Linked DNA regions of Homo sapiens. The protein of the gene in region 3 purifies or fractionates together with the protein of the main gene of each other region. This does not show direct contact. Each region holds a gene or a part of one and is shown on either strand. Other genes may lie near its edges.

Region 1 (4,193 bases), on a different chromosome or scaffold from region 3:
AAGCCCTGCCTGGCTCTGTACCTGAGAATTAGGGTTGGCTTAGAATACTCTGGGAATACATACAACTGCTCACAGAGTATCATGTGGTTCCCTTGTGCAGTCTACACAAATGGCTAATGTAGTCTCTTTCCCAACAAGGGCTTTAGTAAAATCCCGCCTACAGGAAGTTTTCAAAAATACCAGCATTTCAGGGGACTTTATTGGAATGTGCTGGCCCTTCTGATGACTTTAGCATTGGAAAAACTGAGGGTGAGACCATGATTACAATGGCAGTGCATGTGGGTAGTGACATGAGTTTTGCAGGTGCTGACAAAGGAAAAAACATTCATACTCTACTATGTTTGAAGCCACAGGGCTGGGGTCCACTCTGTGGGATCTGCTTCACTAGTAAAAATATCTAATAACAAAGTTCAATTCAAAAAAGCTACATTCCAGTAGCTATATTTGGGTCTAAGACAGACCACTTGTTAAGCAACGCGGCACTATGTTCTCATTTATATGTGAGAGCTAAAGAATTTGAACACATGGAGGTAGAGAGTGGAAAAATGGATAACAGAGCCTGGAAAGGGGGTTTCCTACCCTGGAAAGCAGGGGGTAGGGGGAGGATGAAGAGGAGTGGCTTAAAGTCCACAAACATACAGTAAGAGAAAAGGAATACACTCAGTGTTTGATGGCAGAGTAGGAGGATGACACTTAACAAAAATGTATTGTATTCGGGTGACAGACACCCTAAATACCCTGACTCGATTACTATGCATTATATATGTGTAACAAATTTTCTCAAGTACCCCAGAAACTTGTATACACACACACACACACACACACACACACACAGACACACAGAGAGAGAGAGATAAATGTAGCACTGTAAAAAGTGGTGTTATAATGAAGAACCACTGAGGGTTGTTCTCTCAGAAAATGAATGAAAGCTGAGATTGCCAAATGCAGTTTAAATAATGTTTCCACCTCTTACCCGGCAGTCATTCAACATTCACAAAAGTTGATTTTTCGGATGCCTACTAGGCCAGCCACCACGTTAGGTGCCAGGGGTTACAGCAGTGATGGCAAATGCTATGAAGGAAGAGTTCTGCTAGAAGCAACCCTAGCTGGGGGCTAGGAGAAGGTTTGCCAGAGAAAGTGAGATTTGGGCCGAGAGCTACAAGGTAGGTCTGAATGAATGGGTGGAGAGTGTGGGGAGGGATGACGGGAGAGAAGAAGGAAAGCTGGGTGCAAAGGCCTTAAAAGAGAAGGGAGCCCAGGGCATGTGAGAGCTCAAGGGTGGTGTGGCCAAAGTACCGTGTCAAGAGGGAAGATGGCTGGATTTGAGGATAGGGGTGGGAGCCAGGGGCCGTTAGGACCTTATTAGCCATCTCATACTTTTCTTTTTCCTTGAAAGCACTGGGCAGCCACCAAAGGTTTTGAGCTGGGGAGTGATATGGTCAGATCTGTGTTTTCCAAAGAACTCTTTGGCTGCAGTGTGGAGAATGGGTTGGCTGGAGCAAGAATGGCCATGCACAGAGAAGGTGATGGTGACTTGGCCCCACGGGGAGGTGACAGCGGTGCATGGAAGTGAAATGACAGGAAGGTTATTTAGGAGTCAGAATAGAGATGCTGTGTCCAGAGAAAAGTTTCAGGTTTCTACAACTCGATGGATATCAACACCCCGAGAAGGGCACAATGGAAGAGGAAGACCAGGCCTGTGGAGTGTTGCTGGGCAGCTGGGTTTCATAGCTGGACCTATTCCAACTGGCCCCTCACTGCCAACACATGCAATCAGAAAACTGTAAACCAGCTTAGCTTACCGGTTCCGTTCCCTTTTCTCTTGTGACGTAGAACTGCTCCGGGGTTAGTTTCTTTTGCCACTCACTCTTGGCAAGAGGCAGCTCACACGTTGCAAGAGACCCTGTATTGTTAAACAGGAATTTTAAAAATTAAAACAAAAATGCCTGATGGACTTTTCTTCCTTGACCTTTTTCCCTAAGTGTACTGTCACCCAGCAGAATAATCCAGTCCCTTCCTCTCTCTCCCACGAGTTTATTCTTCATGGGGACCAGAAGGCTCAGGCACAAAATGCCTTCATTGACTATTTAATTTAATAAGAAATTAACAAGAAGTAGAGAGCCAGTTTTCTAGTCTTCCTGGGGCACAGAAGTGAAAGAGGCAGCTGAAATATGAAAGAATGCGGAATACATTCCCTTCGGGTACCTAAGGGTAGAAACTGATCCTCTCTTCTCTGATGACTTTTAGAGGAGCAGTTGCTGTCAGAATCTAGCCAGAAGTAGTTGAGGCATTGGGCAGAAAAGAACTGTGAGCTAGTCGGTTATTAAACTCTTCTCCCTTGCTAGTTTATAAGGATATCTCTGATTTTCTTTGTCAAGGGAGGTCTCTATTTTAAAAATCTTCTTGCATGGAACAAAAGAAGAAACTCCCATAGCATATAGTCCTGAAAGAGAAACAGACCTACCATAATCTATTATGATGCTTCATGGTTTTTGTCCATATTTTGTTTTCTTCTTTCCTACTCACCTTGGCATCTATATTACTACATTTATTCACGTGAGTGTAAACCAAGTAACTAGAGCAATACTCTCTTTAGCCAAAGGGAGTAGGAAGCCCAACTCCTATAATAAATGTTTTTAATCATCCAACATTAAGAATCTGAAAGGATTTTATAATGTGTCCAACTCTTCAGTTTGCAGATGAGAAACAGAGGCCCAAAGGGTTAGTAATCTGACTATGGCACTGAAGATGAAACGTTGAATGCCCGTGATGCCAGCACCTATATATCAAACACGTCAGAAGTTACAGTTGAAATTCATTTTAGGTTACAAAAAAAGTCCTAAATTATCCTTCGGCAAGAAAAGACTTATCTCCTCTCCAGTTTATAATACTGAACAATACTGCATTTCCAGTGATACATATAGTTGATTGCTTACATTTTGCTAAAAGGTTTTTAGGCTATTTAATATATTAAAAGTTTTCTTCTTTCTTTTTATTACTGTTATTATTTTTACACAAGGGCTCCCCTAGGAGGTATCTTTTATTAAATACAATCTTTATAAGACTACAGGGGTTTCTTTTTGCTATGAAAATAGATCTCTGAAATTCCTATGGAATATACCTCAGTTAACACATGATTTTTGGGGTATTCGACACTTTGGGAACAAAACAAAATGTATTTATGTGATAATTACTATTGCTCAATGGCCTTCAGAGTTATCACGCAGAATGTCAAGTAATAAATGAAGAAGGAAGTATAGAATTTTTAAAATCACCATTTTGTAAAAATCATCAGAGGATTCTAAAACCCCTGGGTGAAAGACTACTGGGGAACAGATAGTCACATCTTCTCAAAATACAACCCCAAAGTTTATTAATTACAAAAAAGAAAATGCCACTACTTTAACCAAGTAGGCTAAGTTAGCATCACCAACAGTGGGACAAGTGACATCCTGTCTTCCTGATGTGATGCTCTGGAAAGGACACAACATCACCAGTAAAGTTTTCCTGCTGAAAACATTCAATCAGTGTCTCATGAAGAAAAAATCACATAAGTGAAAATTGAGGGAAATTATTCAAAAGAAGGACTGTCCACAACTAAAACCAATGTGTGACCCTTTATTAAATTCTAGATCCCAGAAAAAAAAACAAGAGCTATAAAAGACATTGTTGGTATATGGTGGGAAATTTGAATATCAACTGTGTATTAGACAAGGGTGCTCAATTTCCTGAGAGGAAAACTGTCTTGCAGTTTTGTAGGAAAACATCTTTGGTCTTAGGAAACATGCCGAAATATTTAGCAGTAAAGTGTCATGATGTCTGCAACTCTCAAATGGTTTAGCAAGAGAAATATAAATAAGTAAGTGTGAGTGTGTGAGTGTACGTTTGCGCGTGTGTGTCTCAGTGTTGGGGAGAGAGATGGGGAAGAGCACATGAATCTAGAAAGGAACTGCATCTCTATGAGATTTTTCCTAATAGCCCATAATCCCAGTTTAATTGTGAGGAGAAACATCAAACAATCCCAGACTGAGGGACATTCTACAAGGAACCTGACCAGTCCTCCCCAAAACTGTAAAGGTCATGAAAGACAGAGACAGTTTTGACAAATGTACTATGATGATGTCAGAAGATTACCAGGGGGATCCGGATGAGGGGTCTTGAGAACTCTGTACTGTCTTTATAACTTGTCTATA
Region 2 (4,193 bases), on a different chromosome or scaffold from region 3:
ATGGAGGAGAGGGGACATTTCCGAGGCAGGACACATGGGCTCTGCACAATCTGTCTCGCCTAATAATCTGTGATCATCCATCCCAGCTCCTAGGCCTTGTCCCTTGAGGACATCTCTGGGTCCCCAAAAGGGCTTAGGACCCAGAAGCGCTTCAGCTGATGTCTGCTGCCATGGGTAGGGCACACCTGACTCCCACCCCACCCCGCCCCACCCACCCGGGCCCACCAGCACCTCACCTGTCCCACCATGGTCTTGGCGAGGATCTCAGCCCTGCGCGGCCCACTCAGCATGTCTGCCGCCTTCAGGAAGATCTGGGCCCGGTCTGCAATAGGCTTCAGGTCCCACTCTTTCCGGGCAGCCAGGGCAGCCTCAATGGCTTTGTTGAGCAGGCTCTAAAGGGAGAGGGAGAGGTTGGGGACTGCCACCTGCAGCGGGAAAGGCCCTGGGGAGTGAGCGAGGGAGGAGAGACCTGGGAGGCCACTCTCTTCCATCCGGGGACAATGCCTGTCTCCCTGGGCCCTCAGCCCCCTGCCACCATAGCTGCCAACAACAGCGTCCCATCAGAGCCTGTAGTGGCTGCCAGTCTGAAGCCTGAAGGGCCCGGCCAGGTTGGTCAGCTCTCCGAGGCCTTGGCACTGAGTCCCGCAGCTGTTACACTGGCTCCACTTTCTCTCATGGTCTAATCAAAACCTTACCTTATTCTTGGGACCTGGTGCCCCTTAACCCACCATCCAGAAACTTGAGGTCAACTGGAGCCTGAGACACGGCTCTGCTGCTGGCCTCCCAGACCCCAACTGCCCTCATCGCCACACAATGCCAGTTCCTGGACCCCCAGCCACCCCAGCCCCTCCTGCTGGCCCTTTCCAGTGCCAATTCTTGGCCTAGCTTTCCATCAATGGTGTCTCCAATTGCCCTGACTCAGCCTTCCAGAATCCACCTCCTCCCCAGTCCAAGGTCTGCCCCACCACAATGGGCATGTCTGGGAATGTCTCAGCCCTGGCTGAGGCAGCTTGTGTTTGGCTCAAGTTAACCTTTGTATGCCTGGCCCAGTCAAAGACATCACCCAGGGACTCCCTCAGTGTCAGCCACCCCCTGCCCACCTACCCACCATGGCCAAAGAAGGACACAGCAACTGATGCCCCCTGCCCCCGCCATATCAGCAGCTGGCAGGGCAGAGCAGGGGCAGCAACCCTAACCCCGGGTCACCAGGCACACAGGCTCACTCACCTTGTCTGCATAACAGAACTTGGCCACCTTATGTCCATGGTTAAAAGGCTGAAAGGAGAGAAGAGTGAGGTCCTTGCCCGGGAGGGAGGTGCCAGGATAAGGATGAAGAGGACTGGACTCAGAGCCGGTTTTCCAGGAAAGTCCTGGACACGCCTGCTGTCCCCCCTCCCCCGCTCCCATGAAACCCTCCCCAGTGCCCGGCCCACAGGTTGCTCCCTGTTAAGGGTGCTGGTGTACCCGCTATACCATGAGTAAGACATGGCTCCTTCTCCAGAAGGCTCAGAGTCCAGGAGAAAGGCATAGACCCCAGGGTCTTTCCAGGAAAGCACGGACCTTTGTGGTCAGAGAGACATGGGTTCGAATCCTGGCTCTGCCACCTACTAGCTGTGGGGCCCCAGGTAAGCTCACTTCCTTCCCTAAGTCTCTTCATCTAGGAAATGGGGACTGCCCTCCCTGTCTCTTAGCATGGACAGGAGAACCAAAGGGGATCATGGATGAAAATTCTTTGGTCCAGTATGAGGCTGCGACTATGGGCAACAAAACCAGGTGAGGCCCAAAAGAATGCACCGGTGTTGTGACATGCTTGGGACTTCCGCCCTGCCCCGAAGCCATCATGGACAGAGCAATTGTTTCCTAAGCCCCAGATTTACTAATCTAAATAGGAAGATCCTCAACAAACATTTATAAACACAACCTGGTGTTGGTCCAAACCGCACCATTTTGTCAGCTCCCCGCTATTTTGCAGACCTCGGGCCAAGTGAAACATTTCACAGGAGCTCAGGCCATGAGAACCATCCGGCTCAGCCGCCTGACCGCAAGGCGGACGAAGGCCCACCTAAAGAAACTTCCCTGTTGGCCGGGCGCGGTGGCTCACACCTGTGATCCCAGCACTTTGGGAGGCCAAGGCGGGCGGATCACAAGGTCAGGAGATCGAGACCATCCTGGCTAACATGGTGAAACCCTCTCTCTACTAAAAATACAAAAAATTAGCTGGGCGTGGTGGCGGATGCCTGTAATCCCAGCTACTGGGGAGGCTGAGGCAGGAGAATGGCATGAACCTGGGAGGCGGAGCTTGCAGTGAGCCGAGATCGCACCACTGCACTCCAGCCTGGGCGACAGAGCGAGACTCCGTCTCAGAAAAAAAAAAACCATCCCTATCATATCTTGCTGGGTAAAGGTACAAGGAACACCACGATGACATCCCACCGGAGAGGGCCAAACCACCTGATCATAACAACATCTTATCAATATCCTGCCAGGCAGCAAGCCATACTGCCCAGACCCGTCTCACCCATACCGATGAGTACCTCAGCCTGTAAGCAGCGGTGGGCCCTGGCATTAAGCTGGTCCCCCACTTCCTCAGGTTTCTGCAATATACTGGTGTTGCTGTTTCAGCTGCCCTCTCTCTGTGTGTGTGTCTTTCTTTAACCCCTGTCTTCCCTTCAAAACCTAATGCCCGGCAGTGGTGAACGCTAGCATGACCAATGAAGCAGGGAGAAATTTCACTTCTTTCCTTCCTAGGGCTGGCAAGATAGTTTATATCGTAATAGCTGACACTTTTGCTACCTATCCGTCTTCTGGTGGGTTATTGGAGCTTTCCTGTCTAAAAGAGTAGCCACGAGCCACATTTCACATGCTCAACAACCACACGTGGCGGCTCATGGCCGCTGGAACGGACAATGCAGATCTGGAACATTTCTGTCCTCACTGCAGGAAATTCTACTGGCCGGCGCTGGTCTAGGCTTGAGTAGAAAGTGACCATTCTCCTTCATGTTAAAGCTTGGCACAGTCACTCTGTATTCGGGCCACACCTGAGATTGGCCTGTGATGCTTAAGGGCAGAGAAGGTGGCTGCGACCTGGGCCCCAGTGGACTGCAGAACCCCGTCAGCACTATGTCCCGGCAAACATAGATCCTGCCCTCACATGCCCCAGAACCCCAAATGTCTCGTGCCACAGTGATCAGCACATGGCCAGAATCTCCAGCCAGGTCGGCAAGGCAATGTGGGAAATGAAAATCAGCAGTATCCACCCAGGGGCTTATCAGAATGCCGGAGCCTCGCTGCCTGGAAAAATCCCAGCTGCCATGCAGCCTCAGACGCCTGCGGAGCTACAGGTGAGGGCAAGCTCTAGGCAGCTACAGAGACAACCAGGGAGCTGGGTGGCAGGTGCTGCTGTCAGCTGGCACCTGCACACACACCCAGTGACAGACAGAGTGACCTGGCCAATGCCTGCAGACCCCAGGCCATGCTTGGACAGCTCCAGGTAGTCCTGACCCAGCAACTAGAGCTCCAGGACACTGCTGTGGTCAACTCCTGCCCCAGGCTGTCCTGGGAACCTTCAGAGTGGGGGACCTGGGTCCTCCCCCTCAGTCACCCCTCCCCCTGCACACGTCTGCCCAGGGTTTCAGCCGGACAGAGCCAGAATGTGCTTGCCCTGTTTGCAAAAGGGCTGACCTTTTATTCTCCCTCAAATCACAGACCTATGAGTTTCCTGGCCCACGTAAAGTGCATGCCAGTTTCTGGATGGATAAACTCCAAGCATGGGGGCTTCTTAGGCCAATGCCATCTGAGGTGCTCGGGGCCCGGGGCCCAGCTTTTTGTCATTAGCTCCCAAACCCCCTTGGCAAGAAATCTATGAGGAATAACAGAAGATGCTGTGTGGCCCCCTCATGGCCTTTCTTGCCCAGACACAGGATGCCGCTATGGGCTGGATGCAGTGTGGGTGCCGTCCTTTGCTTTGGGAGTTTTACTGGTCCACAGAATTCAAAATCTGGGGTGGGGAGGGGCACTATAAAGGCCTTGAAGTCAGAGCCCACACATTATAAGCTTACGAGCTGTCAGAGAAAGAGGTCACATATTCAGGGGAGGGGCTGAGCTCTGCCCACCCGCTGGACATACCGACACTTGGTACTGCACGTCCGACGTCCACACCTCCTCATCCCCCACCACGCATGGGATGGCTTCCA
Region 3 (4,193 bases):
GTGGAAATGCCTGTGTGTGTGTGTGTGTGTGTGTGTGTGTGTGTGTATGCTGATATACACAGAGATAAGTGTCACACAGACATACCTTATGACCTGGGTAATTGGGTAGGAAAGTGCCTGTGATGGGCCCTTTCAAACTCATGGCTTTCTAGATGCTATTTGGGTTGTTCTAGTCCACACTACTGCAGACTAGATTGGTTGATTCAAGGCTCACAAGGGAACCTCAAGGGGGGAAAGGACAATACCCCGTTTAAACAACTGATGTCATCAGTGTGATTTCAGAAGAAATAAAGGGTACACCATTCTCCCTTTCCCTCCCAATTCCTGTCTCTTTCACTGCTTCATCTCTGAGCCCTGGCTAAGGATTTTTTCCACATCTTCCTTCATCTGTTTCATCAGGTTTTGTTTTTAATTTACTTTTGTTTTTTTTTGTTTTTTTTTTTGTTTTGTTTTTAATTTCTATTTTTCTGGTTAACTCAGAAACCTTAAAAATTTCTTCATTTTGCCACTGTCTTCTCTGGACAACTCTTGCTCCCTTTCCCCCTGGGCTGGGCAACTCTATGAGCACCCACACTCCTCCACGATCATGTTCTGAATGTCCTTTTTGATGATGTTTTGACCATCATCATAGTACAACATGGACATGGGTCTCAGCTTGGTGGGCACACAGCACGATTTGAGGTTGGCAAAGGGGCTATGGCCCCGCATGCGGTAGTGGTTGATGACTGTTGAGTGGAAGGACAGTGAGGACCCGGACGTGCCTGCTATATGGCTCGGGCACTCACCCTCGCAGTAGTTGGCATGATAGCCAGAGGGAGCAATGATCCAGTCATTCCAGCCGATGTCCTTGAAACTGACAAAGAACTGTTTCTTACAGCAGATGTTGACCTTGCCATCACACTCCAAGCCCCGCCGACGCCGGCGATGAGGGTGGTCTTCAGACTGCCGGGCCTGCAGCATGAGGAAAGGTCTGTGCGACTGCTCCTTTTCCTCATCTGCTCCTGCCCCACCTTCACCTCCGCCCTTCTTTTTCCCTTCCCCCTCCTCTTCTTTCTTCTTCTTCTTGCCCAGGAGAACCAAGCTGGCGCCACTCTCCTGGCACTGCTCACAGGCAATCCGAACGTCCAGGGAGCTCTTGCCCTGGTCCAGCAACCGCTGGATGCTGCTGGAGACAGGGAAGACATGCCAGGTGCTCTTCCGAGCGTCTACTACTTTTTCAGAGAGCAACAGTTCACTCCTCTCCCCCTTTAAGCCCACTTCCTCGGCCTCTTCCCCTGTGTCCAAGCTGCCCTGCGGGTGCTTCTGCTGCTGGAAGAGGCGGATGGTGACTTTGGTCCTGGTCCTGTTGGCCTTGGGGACTTTTAGGAAGAGCCAGACTTCTGCACGCTCCACCACTGACAGGTCACTGCCTTCCTTGGAAATCTCGAAGTGCAGCGTCTTCCTGGCTGTTCCTGAAGATGAAAGACAGCATAAGAGAAAACAGGCACACCTGTTAATTCCAACATTTACATGCACTCGTAAATTTCAGGCAAGCAGGAGTCTTCTGTGACAGACCCTCTTGAATAGGGGTCAACAAATGACAGCCCATGGGCTGAAACTGTTTCTGTACTGCCTGCAAACTAAGAATGGCTTTTATACTTTTAAGTGGTTAAAGAAAAGTGATATTTTGTGACATGTGAAAATTACCTGAAATTTAAACATTAGTGCCTGTAAATAAAGTTTTGTTGGAGCATGGTTATGCTCATTTCTGTACATGCTGCCTATGGCTGTTTTTGCACTATAATAACCAAGGACTGCGTAGCTGCAACAGACTGCCTGGCTCACAAAGCCTAAATTATTTACTCTCTGGCCCTTTATAGAAAAAAGGTTTTGGACCCTTGCTTTAGAATGAAGAGGGCCTGCGAGTCTGTGTCTGTTGACTAATTGCTCAACCTCAGTTTCATCTTCTATAAAAATGGGAATGACATAAGGACATTTGACCTGTTATCTCACAGGTTTAGGAAGGTCAAATGAGATAACATAAACAAAAAGACACTGTAAGCTCTAGAAAGCTAAGGAAATACTATTCTCAGACAAAAATGCAGCCCCTGGCCCCACCTCGCTGTGTAAGTCTGTGCAGTCGAGACACACTTGAGCCAGCCTCTTCTTCCCTTGTCACAGCCTGATTCCTCCGCCATCACCTCTTTGCTGGGTCACTGCAGCAGCATTTTCTTTACTTTGCCTCTGCAACACTAAGGAAGGCCTCCTCTCCAGTCATTTCTCCATGAAGCAGCTAAAGGCATCTTTCCCACAGGTGGATCTGATCACATCACTTCTTCTTGAAAGTCCTTTACTGAATTCCTATTGCTCAGTATCCAACAGAAAGTGGCTGGGACTTTGGGCTCTGTACATGCTGTTCCTCCCTTGAATGTCAGCTCTTGCCCAGTCCTGTTCTCTGGGGTCTAAGGCCTTGAGAATTCCACCCCCTTTCTCAACTGCAGGCAGTGACACCTGCTGTTCCTTCTGCCTTAAGTGCTCCTGCCCCAACTCCAACATACCACCCTTAGTGCTGCCTTTAATAATGTTTCAATTTTCAGATTGTTTGGATGACAGTTCCTCTAGGAGGCTTACCTCACATCACCTCCACCACCACCCTCCTGCCAGCCTGGTTTAGAATGCCCGGGGTCTAAGGTCACTATCATAGTCTAGTGTTTAGCAGAAAGTAGCCAATGACTTGATTACTTATTAACAAATAGAGGCGTCCTTAGCATTGAGTTCTATTAAATTAAGAGAGCCACCTAGTACCTCTGAATCCCCCATTTTTGCCTCTGACCCATTACAGGGCAGATTAATGGGCACCAGAAACATATGTCAAATAGCAATCGCTGCTAATGGACAGGAAATCCCCACATTGTCAGGGCAGTTGAATTTAGCAACCACTCAGTTCCAGCCTAACTCTAAAATTAGAAAGTCACCTATTTCCTTCTCTTTTCCTAAGCAACTGTATGTTTAATGACACAGCAACAATTACTATGAAAGCAGGTATCCAAACTAAAATTTTTTGATTAATCAAATATTTTCCCTCACTTCCATTTTTCCCACTTGGTGGCATATAGAAACATATCCTCTTTTCCATGACCGTGGACCTCCTTACAACTGTCTGCTGTACATGTATCCCATGCACAAATCTGGGAACAATCTTCAAGAAGTTCATCTTAGAACTTGCAACTCCCTGGGAGGATCTCCCTGCCTGGATTTCTATAGTTAACGGAAATCCAGCCATACTTATCACTCGAGGCCCTGAGATGTTTACGGTACTATAAATTTTAGGCACAGTTTCAAGTTCTCTGCAGCAGAAGGCAGGCTTTTCTGTGCATTGCGTACTGTGGATTCTGTTCTTAATTTAACACACTCTGCACACTGTGATTATGATAGTGGTAAATTCACTGAGGCAAGGGCCAAGCAGGGCTGCAGATGGATAGGAAAGGTTCTCTGGCATCTTTCTATAAACTTACGAGGATGCTGGCCATGATGATGGTGGCGGTGGTAAGGGGAGTTCCTCTGACTCCGACCTCATGTCTTTGGCAGGAGTTGAAATGAATAATAAAGCTGGGTTTATGATTAGATAGAATACCAGAGCAGAGAGAGCAGTTAGAGGGAGAAGCTGTCTTATTTTAGGAAGCATGATGACTTATTTTTTCAAAATCTGAATTCGATATTCCCCTTTGCTAAGAATTGGTGTGGGTTTTGTTGTTGTTGTTTGTTTCTTAACAAAATAAAAGAGAAGAAGATTCCCATAAGCAGAGCTTAATCATTTAAATCTAAAAAGGCAATCAGCAGTTGATTTTAGGGTGGCAGGGTCCTGCCAAGGCCTTAGGAGAAGGCCGAGGGAAACCTCCCAAGCCTTGGATAACTAGCCTGGAGGGTGTGCAGGTTTCCTCCAGCTTGGGCACATCTGCCTTGCCCCATAGAGAATGTTAACAAGATACCTGCTGTTTTCCCTTCTGCCTCTATGCAGGACAGCTTCTGAAATCCTAAACTGCACAGGGTGTCACTCCAAAAACAGACAGATAGTAGCTGCTAAATTAGAGAACCCAGAGGGCACAAGGTTGGGTTTTGTTTTTCTAGGAAAGAGTGTAAAACTGGAGTGTCTGACTAGTGCCCCGGATAGGGAGGCTTAATAGGTTTGGGGTAACTCATCCCCATGAGCTCTG
Region 4 (4,193 bases), on a different chromosome or scaffold from region 3:
GTGATCTGCCTGCCTCAGCCTCCCAAAGTGCCAGTATTACAGGCATGAGCCATCATGCCCAGCCTGTCAAATAATTTTTGAAAGCCCTCCATGTTGCAGGCATTGTGCTAGGTGCCGGGGATATAGCAGTAAGCAGAAGCAGAACAGACAGGATTCTGCCCTTCGGGAACTTACACACTATTGTTTCCAACAAGCACTCACTATTAAAGCTAGGATGGACGTGCTAAAAAAAAAAAAAAAAAAAAAAAAAAAGAGAAAAAGAAAAAAGCTTTTCTTATTGAAAAAATAATCAATATATGATTCTTTCAGAAAAACATGCCAAAAACAAAAGAAAACCACCCTTAGAATCTCCCAGTGATAACGCTATTAACACCCTGGTGTGTAACTTTCTAGATCTGTGCAGCCCAATATGTCACTAGTCACATGTGGTTATTTAAATTTAATAAAAATTGTATAAAAATAAAAATACAATTCCTTGGCCACACTAGTCACATCTCAAGTTCTCAAGGGCCACATGGGTATAGTGGCCACCACATGGAAAAGCTCAGGTCCAGAATATTTCCATCTTCACAGAAAGTGCTGGTCTAGGTCCTAGTCTAGATAAATGCTCCCATACATATATAAACTTTTTTCTTACATAAAAGTGTTAAGATTAAAAAATACATGGCCAGGCGCATTGGCTCATGCCTGTAATCCCAGCACTTTGGGAGGCTGAGGCAGGTGGATCACCTGAGGTCGGGAGTTCAAGACCAGCCCGGCCAACCTGGTGAAACCCCATCTCTACTAAAAATACAAAAATTAGCTGGGCATGGTGGCAGGGGCCTGTAATCCTAGCTATTCGGGAGGCTGAGGCAGGAGAATCACTTGAACCCGGGAGGAGGAGGTTGAGGTGAGCCGAGATTGCGCCATTGCACTCCAGCCTGGGTGACAGAGTGAGATGCCATCTCCCAAAAACACACACACACACACGCGCGCGTGCGTACGCGCACATGCACTATTTGTTTTTGTTTGGAGACAGAATCGTGCTCTGCCTCAGCCTCCTGAAGTGCTGGGATTACAGGCATGAGCCACCACCATGCCCAGTCACATGTACTATTTTATAAACTGCTTGAGTCACTTTATATATACCTATGTTATTAATGGCTTCATAATATTTCATTTTATAAAAAGTCCATAGTGTATCTGACCCAACTTTCCTCATACTAAATATTTAAGTTGTTTCCAACTGTTCTGTGCTTACCAAACAGGTTTGTAAGGAACACCCCCAAGGCTAAATCTCTACATTTGGCCTTCGTGACTTGCTTTGGATAAATCCCCTTACATGGAATTGCTGGGTCTACCCCACCCCACTGGGCTGTGGACCTGGGGACACCAAACCTGTTGCACCACCATTCAGTTTATATATATACATATATTTTTTAATAAGATAGAGTCTTGCTATATTGCCCAGACTGGTCTCAAACTCCTGGGCTCAAGCCATCCTCCCACCTCAGCCTCCCAAGTAATTAGGGATGACAGGCATGAGCCACCCATCCAGCTTGCCCCACCATTTTAGATCATTTAACTGTCACAGGTGTCTGTCCCTGTTTGGCCTCCTCTACTCTCCCCTAACTTGTGCAGAGGAATCACATCTTGCATAGCTCTGTCAACTGCCATTGCACCTATCACACGTAATACTCAAAGCAGATGCTTGAAAAAACTGTTTTTTTGGCTCATTTCCAACTTTACCTTTTCATTTTGTAGTCCATCTCGGGGACCAACTTCCACAATTTTCACCCGCTTTGGTAAAGTGCCCATAGATGAGGTGCTGACCTTTGGTTTAAAAGAGGAAACAAAAAGTATGAGGAAGAGATTGCCACAATTCCCAGGGAGACCAATATGAAAGAATGGATCTATCTTCACTAATAATGAGACAAGAAGAAATATTTCTCACCATTTAATTCACATTTGGTCTATTTTAGAATTAAGAACAAAAAGAATATTTCACTTAGTAACAGGAACAAGCAAGAGATTCATCCTTCCAGTACCGGTTCTCCCCTGAAGTCCAGACTCCTTTTCCACTGCCTACCTGACAGCTCTATTCGCATCTCTTCATATAGCAGTCCCGAAACAGAACTCTAATTTCTCCTAAAGCCCATCTGACTCCATCCTTTCCATCTCTGTCAAAGGCATCGCATGTACCCTACTGCATAAGCCAGAACTTCATTGAGCCATTTCACCTATTCACCATGGCCTATAGGACTCTGTATGCTGCTGTATGTATGTTAGAAGTAGTTTAAAAAGGCCAGGTATTGCGGGGGGCAGTGGCTCATGCCTGTAATCCCAGTACTTTGGGAGGCCGAAGCGGGCGATCACTTGAGGTCGGGAGTTTGAGACCAGCCTGACCAACATGGTGAAACCCCATCTCTACTAAAAATACACAAAAAATAGCCGGGTGTGGTGGTGCACGCCTGTAACTCCAGCTACTCAAGAGGCTGAGGCAGGAGAATTGCTTGAACCAGGGAGGTGGAAGTTGCAATGAGCCAAGATCGTGCCACTGTACTCCACCTTGGGCGACAGAGGAAGACTCCATTTCCAAAAAAAATAAAAAAAGGCCAGGCACGGTGGCTCATGCCTGTAATCCCAGCACTTTGGGAGGCCAAGGCAGGCAGATCACTTGAGGCCAGAGGTTCGAGATCAGCCTGGCCAACATGATGAAGAAACCCCGTCTCTACTAAAAATAGAAAAATTAGCCAGGTGTGGTGGAATGGACATGTAGTCCCAGCTACTCAAGAGGCTGAGGTGGGAGAATCGCTTGAGCCCAGAAGGTTGAGCCTGCAGTGAGCTATGACTGTGCCACTACACTCCAGCCTGGGCAACAGAGCGAGACCCTGTCTCAAAAAAAAAAATTAAATGACTCTATATGTCACTTGATGCTTTCCAATTAAGAAAAGAAAAGACTGTATGAGTTGCCTCCTCTGACCTCCTGGAATCATCACTCGCCCCTACTGTCCACTCCCAACCTCCACCCAACAGGTTGCTAAGCTCCCTGCCTTCTCTTCCCTCTGCCCCAGGGTTCCTCATCTGGCTTTTTTTAAAAAAACTGGCTGTTCTTACATCTCTCTCTCATCTTTCAGTTGCAGAGAGGCTTCCTCTGACCACCCTTTGCAAAGCTGCCATTCCTCCCACCCCCATTATTTTCGCTATTGCAGAGCTATAATTATTTCCTTCAAAGCACGATAAAGAATGCCTACTCAATGTCTCTTCCAGTAGAACATAAGCTCTTTGAGGGACCTTGTCTGTCTCAACTCCACTTCATCCCTAGTGTTTGGCACCGTGTTTGGTACAAAGTAGCCACTCTTTAAAGTTATTAAAATAACACATAAACCATGAAGGACACAGCTGTCCCAGAAGAGAGCAATTACTGAGTGTGGGGAGGAGTAGTCAGTCCTGGACTTTTCGGGGTATGGGCGAGATGCAGGAGGGCTCTCTTCTGTTACAGTCATAGGCTGGGTGATGACAAGCATGGGTCTAAGGGGAGGTGACACCCCCAGTAGCTGAAGACAGTTTTTACAAAATGCCCTGAGTCTCCTCTATATAAAGTCAGCTCAAAATCTTAGTCTTCCCTATCAAGTAACACAATACTTTTTTTTTCCTCTTTCCTCTACCTGTCTTGATACTGTAACTTTTCAAATCAACTTTGTTTTACAGATTTAATCTGGATAAATATACTACAACGAGGCAAAGCGGAAGGCACACTGTGTGATCCGCTAAGGATCTCAACCCCCTGAAGTCCCCCAGGAATTCCCTGCTAGGAAGCAGCTGGAACATGTACAACTCACCTGACTGGCCTTGTTTTAGCCAACAAGCTTTCTTAGAGACTAAGGCGATGAGCCATTGAATTTCATGACGTCAACAGGCTAAGTTGGAAGGTCCCTGCAACTTGAATCTCCCTCCAACAGGGATGTTCAGCCTCTGCTAGTATATCACCCTAAAACTATCTCACTGGAACATAAGTTTCATGAGACAGGGACTTTGTTTTATTCAATGCTGTATTTCTAAGGCCCTGGGACATAATAGGGGCTCGATAAATAACAGTTGAGTGTTGCTGAAATAATCTAAAACCTGCTTCAGGCCAAGCGTGGTGGCTCACGCCTGTAATCCCAGCACTTTGGGAGGCCGAGGTGGGCAGATCACCTGAGGTCAGAAGTTCG
Region 5 (4,193 bases), on a different chromosome or scaffold from region 3:
TTATAAACCTAGAGTATTAATGTTATTCCGTGGAAAATTACATAAACACAAATATCTTTGGAAAGGTAATTTAAACAAAGTTGTAGAAAAGATAAAATAACATTATGCTAAGTCCTTTCATGTTTTTTCATTGTCCTTATTTATATTAGTTTAGAATACTTTATTTCAAAAATTTAAAAGTTTAAATACTTAAAAGGTTTCCAAATATTTACAGAATTGTGTCTGAAAAATTATGCACAGATGTTTGTCTATTGTTTTTCATTAATAAGATTAGCTACTGTCTACAGTGATAAGCATTTTAATAATAAAAAAGTCAGGAAAGTGTTATTTCTTAATATTTTAATTATCATTATAATTTGGCAGTAAAAATCACTTTTCACAAAGACATTACACTTACATTAACAAATCACTCTTGATTCATTCATTTTTGTTTTTCCATTTCTCCTGGCAGCTTTGTAAGAATCCATAACTTCAATATGTCTAACTCAGTTTTGCTTAGCTCATGGTAAACATTTGGAAAACTATGAAACTTCGTGGTCACTCCTAGAGATTTTAACATTGAGTTTGTCTCTTCTGCCCAAGAATGAAGAACTAACTCATCTGCAGTACCATGACACTGAAATAATTCAGGAAGTACACCATTACTCTTCTGAAGAGCCTAGAGAAGAAGATACAAAGACAGAAAAGTTTAAGAAATTCCATTTAAGATCATTCTTAGAAATCAGAGAGAACAGGAAAATTCCAATTTTACCAAGGCTTCAATAACTAATGGGAAAAAAAAGGCAGAGGGAGTGCTGTCTGAGGTATACATTGGTGGGCCAGGCCTGGGGACTTAGCTGGTTCCTGGCATCACTCAATTTGTAACTGTGTGTCACTTACATTTATTCTATAGAGGACGTCTTAAAAATGGCCAAAGCATTTCCTAAAGAAACTAAGTGACTTGGGAAGACAGACCTCTTCACACAATGTGGAAGGAGGGAGGAGTACACAGCTAAGGCACAATCAAGGGGACAATTACATTTTAGTTCTCTATTCTGTATCTGCTTTAACATTTCCACTTCTGGTACTGAAGCTGTAACATTATAATTGAAGCTGCATCATATTCATAGATGAGGATATTGCTGCATAATAAGTATGTGCTATGTAATTGATTTTTGTTTTATGTTCATGATGCAATAAGCAAACCCAGCTATAACCATCATGCAGTTTTAATATGTATAAAATTTACATATATGCTCCCCCACAACCACACACATGATTATCCTTTCCTCCTTGACATTTTGCTTAACAATATTTCTTGTACAGGGGATTTCCAAAACATTAATGATCAGCTGGAATTTAATCACTACGACTCATTTGGCCATGAATTCCAGGAATGGTCAATCCATATCAACTGTGCATCAACTGTGTGTGTGTTTTACAGCTTTATTACCGATTTTGCTTTAGTTTTAACATGTATATATTTCATATTTTTTTCATTTTTTTTTAAATCTGGAACTTACCTGGTAAACAGCAGATGCTTTATTCAGAAAACTAGAAAGAGCAAATACTCCTGCCACATCTTGATGATTTCTATATGCTAAATGTATTGCCATGCATCCTCCCATAGAGAATCCTCCTAAAAACAAAAACATACTTAAAAGTAGAATACATAAAATAATAATTTAGGATATGATATATAACAATTTTCCATATTTTTAAAATATCTGGAGACCTTTAAAGAGAATGCTAAAAAGAAATTTCGTCTACTCTAAGTTTCACAGACAAAGGCCTGCGATAACATAAATAACCCTGTTCCCTCTATGTCACCACTGGTAAAGAGAGCTGTGCTCTACAAGGAGCCAGGATTAAACAAATATATCATGTTCACCAAGTAAAATATCTATCGTAATTCAAAATGAGTCATATTACAAGCATTACTTAAATTCTCAATATTTACTTATATTTTGTTTACACGTACAGAAACCCTCACACTGCAACGCAATTAATAATTTGCACCTTTTTGTCTTACTTGCTAAGCTGTGAGCTCCATAAGGAGTTATGTATCTGGTGTTTGCTATATAATAGATGCTTAGTGAATTCTGAATTAAGAATGATAAAAAAAATTTGAGGAGCTAGTTAACACATTTTTGGATTACAATATTATTTTGGAAACTAATTTATGGTGATATAATAAAAATGAAACATGTATGCCTATATGTAGTTTTTAAAACCAAAGTTTGAAAAAAAAATTAGTCAAACTGTTATTGTCTCTTTAATGTACCAATTCTATGCCAGTCACTGGATATATGCAGATTAAAATACACAGACCCTCCTGTTCAGGGGAACTTTGAGAAGGAAACACATCCAACACAGAATATGGAGATAGCTGTTATGAGGTGACGGCAGCAGAGAGAATGGTGATTCCAGGCCTGACGACAAGTCAGTGACTCAGTGTGACATTCCTAAGCTTGAGAGAAAGCTAAATGACATCTCATTATATTCCATGAGAAAATACAGAATGTAAATCATGTAGCCACACACTCATAGAAATACAAAAATATACTTTGAAGTAGAATTCAAATCTCCTAATTTCAAGTCTGCTGCTTTATTTCACTTAACAAAGTGTAAAGCTGAGCTCTTAAGAGACCATAAATTTGAATTTACTACAATAATCTTTTATACATGGAGGGAACTGAGGCCCAAGATTAGGTACATATTATTTTAAATATAAAACTATTAATAGTAATTTTGGAATTCGGATCTTTTGCAATAGAGTTTAATATACTTTCTACTATCCCTTGATATTTATTAAAATAGGACTACTTTATCTGGAATAGGCAGGTAATATTATTTTGGACTCAGAACACAAATACCCGAGAGAAGATTACCAGTCTGGCAAAGTTTAGATTTTTTAAAAAAGGCACACTATGTAAATAATGAATAAAAGTTATCTGTGATTTTCAACATACCAGCAAGAAATAATAAGTTCTTATCGTAGCAGTAGCCCACCATGGACAAGAGCCACCTGAAAGGCTCTTTCAAAATACCCCCAATAACTCCAGATGTAGATACATCTAATTAGAAGTTCATAAATGAGCTTGGTGGGGGAGAAAAAAGCATAAGCATCTTAACACTGTATGTAAAATTTGCAAATGTACATTAGATTCTCCAAAAGGTTAAAAGCCACTGGGCTACATTATCCATGAATTTGTGCATTAATAAATCTTTGACATGTCCCATTTAGATATGAACAGCTTACGTAAATACACAAATTAGTATTTCTGGTAAACATTTATTGTAAGTACACAGAAAAAAATCTCAACTTTATTGTTTTTTGCCACAATTCTAGTTACAGATTTCTCTCTGCTTATGAAGTTTTCTCTTTAATAACATCATGAGGGTTGTAAAGCGAAGACATTTTGAAATAAAATTCTTATCGATTTAATTTATTGAATATAAATTATTGAGATTTTGAAACCCTTAAGGGTAAGAAACAGTTTTTCTTCAATAATCATATTTTCATTGAGTGCTTATGATTAGCTGAACAAAGTGTCTCTGTGGTGCACGCATACTAATGAGTCAGTTTCAACTTTACACGCTCAGTGGTAAGTATAGTGCTTTGCACATAGCAGTAACTCAATAAAAATTTAACTGAATTTTTAGAAACCGTATGGGTTTCTAATGAAAGTAGTAAAAAATTTACAAATATCTCTTAAGCTTATCAAAGAGACAACATTAAGGAAACTAGTTCTAGTCCTGCCTGTGATACTCCCAAGCTGAATGTCTTTGTGTAAATTATTTAAAATGCTGGATTTCATTTATAGTAAAACAAGATAGATGGACTAATCTCTAGATTTTCCACCAACCTTTTAAATACAAATACTTAATCAGTTATAAAAACTAAAATTGCGAGAACTTTTAAAATGTACAGTTACTGTAAATACAGAAATCTACTTTCAGTTTAAGAATCCCTATCTCTCAGAACACAATTCTAGCTTTCCTAAAAGTTCACAGAATAGAGCTTACCAAACACTCACTTCCTTCATCTCTTCCAATTTCCCCTCTGTTCTTTACAGCCCATTTACTTACAAAGGAATTTCAGGTTGCTTAAAATCAAACACACTGTTAATAATAAAACTACATCTCTAAAATAGGAGAGAATGTGAGAGAGGAAGAGATGGGATTTGAGCAAAGAGTGAGACACAGAGAAT

What was found.
Region 1: the proteins of INHBA (region 3) and MSRB2 fractionate together in Homo sapiens (co-fractionation; one large-scale study listed by BioGRID). This does not show direct contact.
Region 2: the proteins of INHBA (region 3) and ALDH4A1 fractionate together in Homo sapiens (co-fractionation; one large-scale study listed by BioGRID). This does not show direct contact.
Region 4: the proteins of INHBA (region 3) and HMGCL fractionate together in Homo sapiens (co-fractionation; one large-scale study listed by BioGRID). This does not show direct contact.
Region 5: the proteins of INHBA (region 3) and LYPLAL1 fractionate together in Homo sapiens (co-fractionation; one large-scale study listed by BioGRID). This does not show direct contact.

Annotation. Positions count from the first base shown.
Region 1 is NC_000010.11:23,101,854-23,106,046, reverse strand, and holds part of MSRB2 (methionine-R-sulfoxide reductase B2, mitochondrial precursor), read right to left. Parts: intron 1,904-4,193; coding exon 1,803-1,903; intron 1-1,802. UniProt on the Homo sapiens protein: Methionine-sulfoxide reductase that specifically reduces methionine (R)-sulfoxide back to methionine.
Region 2 is NC_000001.11:18,885,237-18,889,429, forward strand, and holds part of ALDH4A1 (delta-1-pyrroline-5-carboxylate dehydrogenase, mitochondrial isoform a precursor), read right to left. Parts: coding exon 4,126-4,193; intron 1,276-4,125; coding exon 1,228-1,275; intron 393-1,227; coding exon 237-392; intron 1-236. UniProt on the Homo sapiens protein: Irreversible conversion of delta-1-pyrroline-5-carboxylate (P5C), derived either from proline or ornithine, to glutamate. This is a necessary step in the pathway interconnecting the urea and tricarboxylic acid cycles.
Region 3 is NC_000007.14:41,689,092-41,693,284, forward strand, and holds part of INHBA (inhibin beta A chain preproprotein), read right to left. Parts: intron 1,452-4,193; coding exon 559-1,451; 3' UTR 1-558. UniProt on the Homo sapiens protein: Inhibins/activins are involved in regulating a number of diverse functions such as hypothalamic and pituitary hormone secretion, gonadal hormone secretion, germ cell development and maturation, erythroid differentiation, insulin secretion, nerve cell survival, embryonic axial development or bone growth, depending on their subunit composition.
Region 4 is NC_000001.11:23,818,782-23,822,974, forward strand, and holds part of HMGCL (hydroxymethylglutaryl-CoA lyase, mitochondrial isoform 1 precursor), read right to left. Parts: intron 1,813-4,193; coding exon 1,729-1,812; intron 1-1,728. UniProt on the Homo sapiens protein: Mitochondrial 3-hydroxy-3-methylglutaryl-CoA lyase that catalyzes a cation-dependent cleavage of (S)-3-hydroxy-3-methylglutaryl-CoA into acetyl-CoA and acetoacetate, a key step in ketogenesis. Terminal step in leucine catabolism.
Region 5 is NC_000001.11:219,207,957-219,212,149, reverse strand, and holds part of LYPLAL1 (lysophospholipase-like protein 1), read right to left. Parts: intron 1,636-4,193; coding exon of another isoform or gene 1,619-1,635; coding exon 1,503-1,618; intron 659-1,502; coding exon 422-658; 3' UTR 1-421.